Linked DNA regions of Homo sapiens: all the other regions are linked to region 1. The links come from fine-mapping of genetic effects on gene expression. A gene starts in region 1. Each other region holds a variant in brackets. All regions are shown on one strand. Distances are from middle to middle.

Region 1 (2,755 bases):
CCAAAAGCTGGATTTGCAACCAGGAAGGGGCTGATTCTGATGCTCTAGGAGGTTTTAGGACCAACTCCCACCCTCTACCTCGGGCTCTGAAAGTCACCTCCTGCCCCTGGAAAGGGCTGTGACCCTTGGCTTGAGCCTGTAGTCTGCAGGAATGAACAGCAGTTCTCAGCAGCCCCCTTCCCAGCAGCCTGTGAAACTGATGGAGGTAGGTCCACCCGAGTCCCCTCTGTGGGCACCGAAAAACTCCTGCCCCCTACCCTGTCCCCCTTCCTCCCCAACATTTATCATCGAGACTAACGTTCAGAACAGACCTGATACCTGACGGTCATTGATGGTGGTGTCACTAAGCACTGCAGAGCCTTCAGGAGAGCCTTGACCTTGATGTTCTGCCCTGGCTGTGTGCCTCTCCAGGGGACAAGATTCCATAGCGCCCACCAGCCTCTGTGGCCATGTGCTGTGTCCACGCCAGGCCCTCTGGTGGACATCTCATTAACTTATCCTTATTTTAAGGAGGAGGAATCACATTACACAGGCAACAGCATCGGCCCCAGTCACCCCAACTGGATGGAGAGCCAACCCCTCAAGCCATCTTAACCCAGAACTTCCCTAATGGGCATGGGGACCACCGGCATTGCCTTCTCTCCAGCAGTTTGTCCCAAATGCAGCCTCCTGGGCCCACTTCTGCAGTTGTTTTTTTGTTTGTTTGTTTTTTGAGACAGAGTCTTGCTCTGTCGCCCAGGCTGGAGTGCAGTGGCAAGATCTCAGCTCACTGCAACCTCTGCCTCCCAGGTGCAAGTGATTCTCCTGCCTCAGCCTCCGGAGTAGCTGGGATTACAGGCATGTGCCACCGCGCCTGGCTAATTTTTGTGTTTTTAGTAGAGACGGGGTTTCACCATGTTGGCCAGGCTGGTCTCGAACTCATGAGCTCAAGTGATCCGCCCGCCTTGGCCTCCCAAAGTGCTGGGATTACAGGCGTGAGCCATGCGCCCAGCCCGCTCCTGCAGTTTGAGGTGCCTCTCAGCCACCGGGCTGTGCAGGGCCCACACGGGCCGCCACGTGGGTGTGTTCACCTCAGAAGGTGCTGGGGCTTTCCTGGAAAAAACCAAAGCGCATGGTGCATTTTCAAATAGGATTATTATTACTGTTGTTCTCCATAGAGCTATTTCATGCTCGCTGACTTCCTTGACTATCTCAGTGGAGTTTCCCTCCTAAGATCTGGAGGATGTAAGGTGGGATGGGTTGGGAGTGGGCATAGCACCTCCCAGGGGTCCCACCCCTCCTACCCACGCCCCCAAATTTGCTCACACCTGCTTCCTTCCAGATCCAGCAGGTGTGCGGAAGGGACGAGGTACGTGAGCACTGCTGCACGAACGGGGACTCCAGAGCGGTGGGCTCCGGGGTCCCCTTCCCGGCGGTTTCCGGGCCGGGGCGGGGCGGGGCGCTCCCCTAGCCGCGCAGTGCGCGAAACCGGCGTGCGCTAGGACCGCGGCGCGCCGCCCTCCGCCGTTATATGAGGCCCCGCTCCGGCCCCACGCGGAACCCGCGGCTCCGAGCCTTCGCCGGCGTCCCGACCCGAGGCCGGACCCGAGGCCAGTCCCGCCGCTGCGCAGCCGAAGCCAGTGCGGGGCCTGAGAGGGACGCGCGCCCCGGGGCCCCCGCCGCGGGCACCATGGGCGCTGCCCACTCCGCGTCTGAGGAGGTGCGGGAGCTCGAGGGCAAGACCGGCTGTGAGTACCCGCGGGGGGCGGCGCGGGGACCGGGGCGGGACCTCCGAACGGCCACTGTTGGGGACCCCGGCCCGCCGCCGCGCTGTGTGACCTTGGGCCAGTGGCGGGCCCTCTCTGCGCCTCAGTCTCCTCCTCTTTCAAATGGGTCCCCGCTGGCCACCTCGCGGGCTGCGGCGAGGAGCTCCGCGGCGATGCTCAGTGCCGCAGCCGCTCAGCTTCGGACTGGCCCGGGAACTCCCTGGCCGGGGGACTGCGGACCGGGGAGGGAGCGGGGCCCAGGCTTCCCAAGCGCAGGGCAGGTGCCTCAGGCCGGGCGGGCAAGTCCCTCAGGCACCCCCGCTGGCGCGCGCGCCCCACACCTGAGAGTCGTTTGCATTCGTGAGCGCGAGAGCGGAAAGTTTTGAAGTCGGCGGACCTGGGTGGGAACAGGTCTCCGACGCTCCCCGGCCGGGTGACCTTAGTCGGGAGAGCCGGCGCCCGGCGCCTGCTTTCGTCCTCGCATCTGTAAAATGGGTTCAGGCAGCCTCATCCCCGCGGGTGGCTGGGAGACTTAGCGAGGCAGCGGCCGCAGAGCACTTTGCCCGGAGCCCAGCGTCCTCCCCTGAGTTCGCTGAGTCTCCCGGGACCAGCAAAGGCTGCGCGCCCCGCATCGGCCCGGAGGCGGGGAGCCCTGGGAGGCCTGGCCGAGCTGCCCGCAGGGAAATGGCGGAGAAAGCGCTTCTCTGCCCGAGTTCAGCCGGGCTGGGGACTTGGCCCTGGGTCCTGAACTCGGCATGGCCAGTTCTGCCTCTGGCTGTGGACCAGGGTGTGGACTGGAGACCGCGGGGGCCAGGTGTGTGGGCAAACCGGCTTTGGCGAGCGACAGACCGGCTGTGAACCCTGCCAGCTGCACTTCCTGGCTGTGTGACCTTGGGCTAGTCACTTTACCTCTCTGATTCTCAGCTTTCCTTCTCTGTTGTAAGAGTTCTCCTAGTACCTGGTAGACGCTCAGGAAATGGGAGCTGCAGATATTTTGGGAAAGAGCTAGC
Region 2 (2,755 bases), 30 kb after region 1:
AGAGATGAGGTCTTACCATGTCGCCCAGGCTGACTTCAGTCCTACAGAACCCCATAGGAAGTAGAGGTAGGGACGCTCACTCTCCCCATTTTACAGATGGGAAAGTAAGGCTAGAGAGAGAGGCCATGTACCTGGCCCTGGGTCACACAGCTCATAAGTGGAGGAGCTGGGGTTTGAACCCAGCGCCAAGATCCTGCTGTAGGAAGCCAGGGGCATTGTCTTGATTTGCAAGTGATCTCTAAGGACCTCAGTCTTCCTGCCCTGCTACTGGGGGTGGGGGAGGTGCGTTTATAATTCCCGTCACCACTGCCTTGGTCTCAGAGCTTCAGAGTCGGCTTCGAGGTTCGTGTCAGCTGCACATAGTGACAGCCCCAGCCCAGCCTGCAGGAAGGAGGTGACTGACCACAGCTTCTTATGCAAACAGGCCTACAGGAAGGGCCTCCTTCCAGCCTCCCAGAACTGCTTTGCCTAATCCTAATCCACCCTCCAGGGCCTAGAGAAGGGAGATGAGGTAGCTTTTCAAGGTTCCCCTGGCCTTTTCCTGCCCATCTTCCCCTGAGCAGCCCTGGCTTGGGAACTGATCCCCAGTGCTGTCCCCTCTCTGCCAGGGGTTTTCTAAGTGACCCCAGGCCCGGTCTTCAACCTCTCAGATCCTGGCACATCTTGGAAGCTGTCCAACAGGCCCTGGGCTGTGCTGGGTTTTCAGAGCATGGACAAAATTCCTTTTCTTTCTGGGGACATTCCCCCACATGAAAATGGCGTTGATTGGGGTTCCCTAGTGAAGGCCCCTGGCACCCCACTACAATCTGCGATGGGGGAGAGGGTGCCACCTCCTTTGCCCCTTCCCGCTCAGACAGCGAAGGACCCACGTGCTTATGAGGATCCCACAGGAGGCTCGTGAAGACCTTGAATGCAAAAGTCCCCTTAAAAATGATCATTCAGAACCACAGGCTTTAGATACAGATGAATAAGATTTGTAAGTTGCACTTAGAAGTTTAAAGAAGAACTGGATTTCTAAATGTGCGGCTTGACAAATTGAATATAGCTTTACAAACTCTCATGAGGCAATTGATGGACCAAAATTGATTTTGTTTTTAAGCCACCGTTTCTTATCTGTGTTGGGCCTGGTCCCATCTCTTTCCAGAAGTCATCTGAGGACATCTAGGGGAGGGTTCGTCTTGCGGCATTGAAAGCCCCACTTCAAGGCCTTACTTTTGCGTGGGTTCTTTACACAGCCCGGTACCTGATTTTTAGACATTCATATTGTTGGCCGGGCGCAGTGGCTCACTCTGTAATCCCAGCACTTTGAGAGGCTGAGGCTGGCGGATCACTTGAGGTCAGGAGTTCCAGACCAGCCTGGCCAACATGGTGAAACCTCGTCTCTACTGAAAATACAAAAATCAGTTGGGCGTGGTGGTGTGTGCTTGTAATCCCAGCTACTCGGGAGGCTGAGCAGGAGAATCGCTTGAACATGGGAGGGAGAGGTCGCAATGAGCTGAGATCATGACACTGCACTGCAGCCTGGGTGACAGAGCGAGATTCTGTCTCAAAAAAAATTTCATTTTGTTATGTTCCCTTTTTAAAAGAGGGAACCCCCAAAT[C/T]GTATATGCTTCAGGATCCTCAAGACCTGAATTCATCCAGACCACAAAGCACTGAATTTCTGTGGCCTCTCGGCAAAATGCCTGAATAGAAAAGAAAAAAAAAAAAGGAATTTCTATCTAATTCTAACACGTTCATTAGCCACCTACCATTCGGGGGGCTCTTCCCCTGTACACTCAGAAATTTTCCATCTAGCAGAGGCGACCTCCACAGGTAAACCTGTTAAAAGGTCAGAATTTTAAATAATGAAGAAAATACAGAAATAGCTTCTTGCACTTTTTCTTTCTCTTTTTGGGCCCCTTAACTGGTAAATGTTTTAAACAACAATTTTTAATTTCCTGATAGCACGCTGGCAGGCTTATAAATGCCAGAAATAGACGCTATGGAATACTTCAGATGTAGTGGTGCAGGCCATTAGGAGGCATGATTAGATAAAGCCACATTACAAAAAATATTTTTAGGTTCATCGAGCCATTGACTGTGGAGTAATTCCGGAGGTAAATGCAACCACAGACGTACACAGGGAAGAGAAAAAAAAGGGACTCCATGCTCCATGTCAAATGCCACCAACGTGCAGCCCCATGTTCTGATAGCCCAGACAGTGGGGCGTCAGCAAAATGTCCTAACTCCAGGTCCTGTTTTTCTTCCTTCAGCAGTGTTCCTTTTGTTTTTCTCTTTGAGACAGAGTCTCGCTCTGTCAGCCAGGCTGGAGTGCTGTGGCGCGATCTTGGCTCACTGCAACCTCCCCGTCCCAGGTTCAAGCAATTGTCCTTCCTCAGCCTCCCAGGTAGCTGGGATTATGGCACCCACCTCCACACCTGGCTAATTTTTGTATTTTTAGTAGAGGCAAGGTTTCACCATGTTGGCCAGGCTGGTCTTAAACTCCTGACCTCAGGTGATCCACCCGCCTCGGCCTCCCAAAGTGCTGGGATTACAGGTGTGAGCCACCACACCCAGGCCCTCAGCAGTGTTCTTACCACTGCTCTGTCATTTTTTGAAGTTACCACAAGATTGGCCCAGTGCAGTAGCTCACACGTGTAATCTGAGCACTTTGGGAGGCCGAGGTGGAAGGATTGCTTGAATCCAGGAGTTTGGGACGAGCCTGGGCAACACAGTGAGACTCTGTCTCTACAAAAAAAATTTAAAAATGAGCCGG
Region 3 (2,755 bases), 38 kb after region 1:
GAGGCAGAGCTGGAGTCCCGCGCCAACTCTAGCTGTGTGACTGGGGCTTAGTCTCTTTGCCTCTCTGGGCCTTGTGTTCTGGTCTGTAAAATAGGATCATCATTGTTGCCACTCATGATTATGTGGGGGTGATTAAGTGTTGCAGTGCTTAGCACAGCTTGATGTCACGCGAGCCCTTCATGACTCCAGGGGGACATTCTGAAGCCCCGAGGGCTCAAGCTCTCCCGCAGGAGGCCTGGAAGGTGTGTGGCCCTGGAGCCCTCCTGGGCAATCCCCGCTACCCCTGATGGTCACTGGGGCAACACCACTGGCCATGAGAATCAGCTCTGGCTGAGGGCAGTGACCTGCCGTCAGCCCTGGGCTCTGAGGTGAGGCAGAGCCTGTTCCCATGGCTGCAGCCTGGGCTGCGACACCTTTAGAAAAGCCGGTTCATCCAGCCCGGCGGGGACCTAGGGAGGAAGGAAAACAAAACTGACACGAGTATTGATGGAGCATGAAACTGATGAAATGAAAAGGTTAGCCTGTCCTAAGCGCTGGACTCAAGGCCGGTGCTCTCCTTGTTGAAAAGGGACATTGGCAGGTTTTAGGGAAAGTCCCTGAAGGCCAGGCACCAACCACCATGCCACTGCCTGGGTCCGCCAGTATCATTCTTAACAATGAGAAGTGGCTTCATCTCTCTGCCTCAGTTTCCTCATCTTTAAAATGGGCACAGGCCGGGTGCAGTGGCTCACACCTGTAATCCCAGCACTTTGGGAGGCTGAGGAGGGCAGATCACCTGAGGTCACGAGTTCGAGACCAGCCTGGCCAACATGGTGAAACCCCATCTCTACTAAAAATACAAAAATTAGCTGGGCATGGTGGCAGGTACCTGTAATCCCAGCTACTCGGGTGGCTGAGGTACAAGAATCACTTGAACCCAGGAGGTGGAGGTTGCAGTGAGCAGAGATCACGCCACTGTGCTCCAGCCTGGGCGGCAGAGTGAGACTCCGTCTCAAAAAAAAAAAATTAAGAAAATAAAATGGGCATAAGTACCTACTTTATAGGGTTGTTGTGAACCCTATGTAATAATGTAAAGCTCTTAGAATAGTTCCTTCCATTTTGAGGGTACGTAGGTTAGCTGCTGTTACATTATTATTATTACTACTATTAATACTGCTGCAGCGATTACTGTTACTGCTGCTGCCGTTATTACTGTTATTATTTTAAAATTAAGAGCTCATCCTGTGTCAGGCAGCCTACTCAGCATCTTATGTGGATTTATCTCATTTGATCATCTCATTAGCCCCATCATGTTACCTGGATATTCCTATGATCCCCATTTTACATATGAGAAATCACGGCTTGAAGACATGCTGTGATTACTCAAGACCATGTGCCTGGTAAGGGGCAGAGCCTGGGCCAGCACCCCTCTCCCCACCTTGTGTTTGACCCTGAACCATCCCCTTTGATAT[G/A]GGAAGGATTAGGTCTGCACCCATCTCACAGATGAGGAAACTGAGGCTCCAAGAGTCAGGCACCAGTGGTGAGGGGGAGGTGAGAGTCAGGTGTGGATGTAGCAGGTGCCTATGGAGAGAGAGAGAGAGAGCAGAGGCAGCGGGCTTCAGAGCCATTTACACACCCACTGGGGGTTGTGAAGCCAGCACCTGGGGACACTGTGTCCCCAGCTCAATTCCTAGCAGGTCAAGCATGTCTTGTTGCTGCTGGTTGGGGACAGGCCTCTTGTGTTGAGTTAATTTCTTCTCCAGGCACATGGGTCAGGCTCTTCTAGGTGGTTTCTCCCCCACCTCTCCTCCCTCTCTCCTGGGACATTGGGGTCTGCTCTCCTTCCAGGGTCTGGACACCTGGGCCCTGGGGAAGGCACCTGGGGAAGGGCAGTGCCTCAGGATGGGCCAGACAAAGAGGGAAGCCCTGCGTGCAGCCATCTTCATTATTCGCTTCATTATTCGCTCAGCAAACCATTTATTGACCACCTTGCCAAGCCCAGCAGTGCAAGGCACTGAGGACGGGGTGCTGTGGACATCACAGGGTCCCCATCCTGCAAGGTGCCATCTGTGGTGCACTCCCAGTTCACCAGACACCGTGCTGAGCATGTTGCAGACTTTATCTCCTCTAAACTGTACGGCAACCCTGTGAGGTTCCTGTTTGCAAAGGAGTAGACAGAGGCTGGGTGAGGCAACGCCGTTTGACCCAGGTAGCAGAGTAGGGTAGAGCCCAAGTGTGATTCCAGAGGCTGTGCCCTTCACCCTCTGTCAGTATCAGTGTGCCCTCCTCACAGACGAGAAAACAGACTCAGGAAGGATTAGCAACAGCCAGTGAAAGCCAGAGAGGGTTTGGCTAGCAGCATAGCAGCCAGCGGCTTCTCTGTTCTCCCAGATTCCCTCTGGAGCTCCACGTGGTCCCTTTCTCAGGGATCTGGGCCTTGGAAAATGGATTCTATTCGGATGGCCAGGGAGAGTCGGGCAGCAGGGTATCTGGTAAGAGCATGGCTGTACGCTACCTGGCTTCCAAGCTGACTCTTCCATGCCCCCACTGGGTGAGCTGGGGCAGGTTGCCGAACCTGTCTGTGCTGAGCCTGAAGCGTCGTGGATAATAGGAGCCCTTGTGGGGTCTCTGGGAAGCGAGGTGGCTCCGGCCAAGTTGCTTGCACGGTTGTGAGCTGTAGCTGTCATTGTCATCCGATCGTGATTTCGTAGATCATCTCCCTGGTAACCCTGACTCATTCAGGGCTCTGGTCTCTCTATTCTGTCCCCTCCTGTGG

What was found. PIP is the estimated chance that this variant, and not a neighbour inherited with it, causes the effect.
Region 2: its variant is fine-mapped to the expression of TESC in thyroid (GTEx, PIP 0.99).
Region 3: its variant is fine-mapped to the expression of TESC in whole blood (INTERVAL, PIP above 0.99).

Annotation. Positions count from the first base shown.
Region 1 is chr12:117,098,197-117,100,951 of GRCh38, reverse strand. TESC (tescalcin) reads left to right here and starts at 1,536. Exons shown (of 8, transcript NM_017899.4): 1 at 1,536-1,727. The coding sequence starts at 1,670. TESC-AS1 (TESC antisense RNA 1) reads right to left here and starts at 1,485. Exons shown (of 3, transcript NR_120464.1): 1 at 1,308-1,485; 2 at 312-499. RefSeq lists silencers at 320-537, 1,404-1,542, 1,281-1,800, 1,861-1,970, 2,041-2,140.
Region 2 is chr12:117,068,051-117,070,805 of GRCh38, reverse strand. The region is part of intron 2 of TESC (tescalcin); the gene reads left to right. Among named protein-coding and RNA genes, the nearest start is that of TESC, 30 kb to the left of the region's middle. The variant C/T (reference allele first, on the strand shown) is at 1,602.
Region 3 is chr12:117,060,478-117,063,232 of GRCh38, reverse strand. The region is part of intron 2 of TESC (tescalcin); the gene reads left to right. Among named protein-coding and RNA genes, the nearest start is that of TESC, 38 kb to the left of the region's middle. RefSeq lists enhancers at 1-43, 44-820. The variant G/A (reference allele first, on the strand shown) is at 1,452.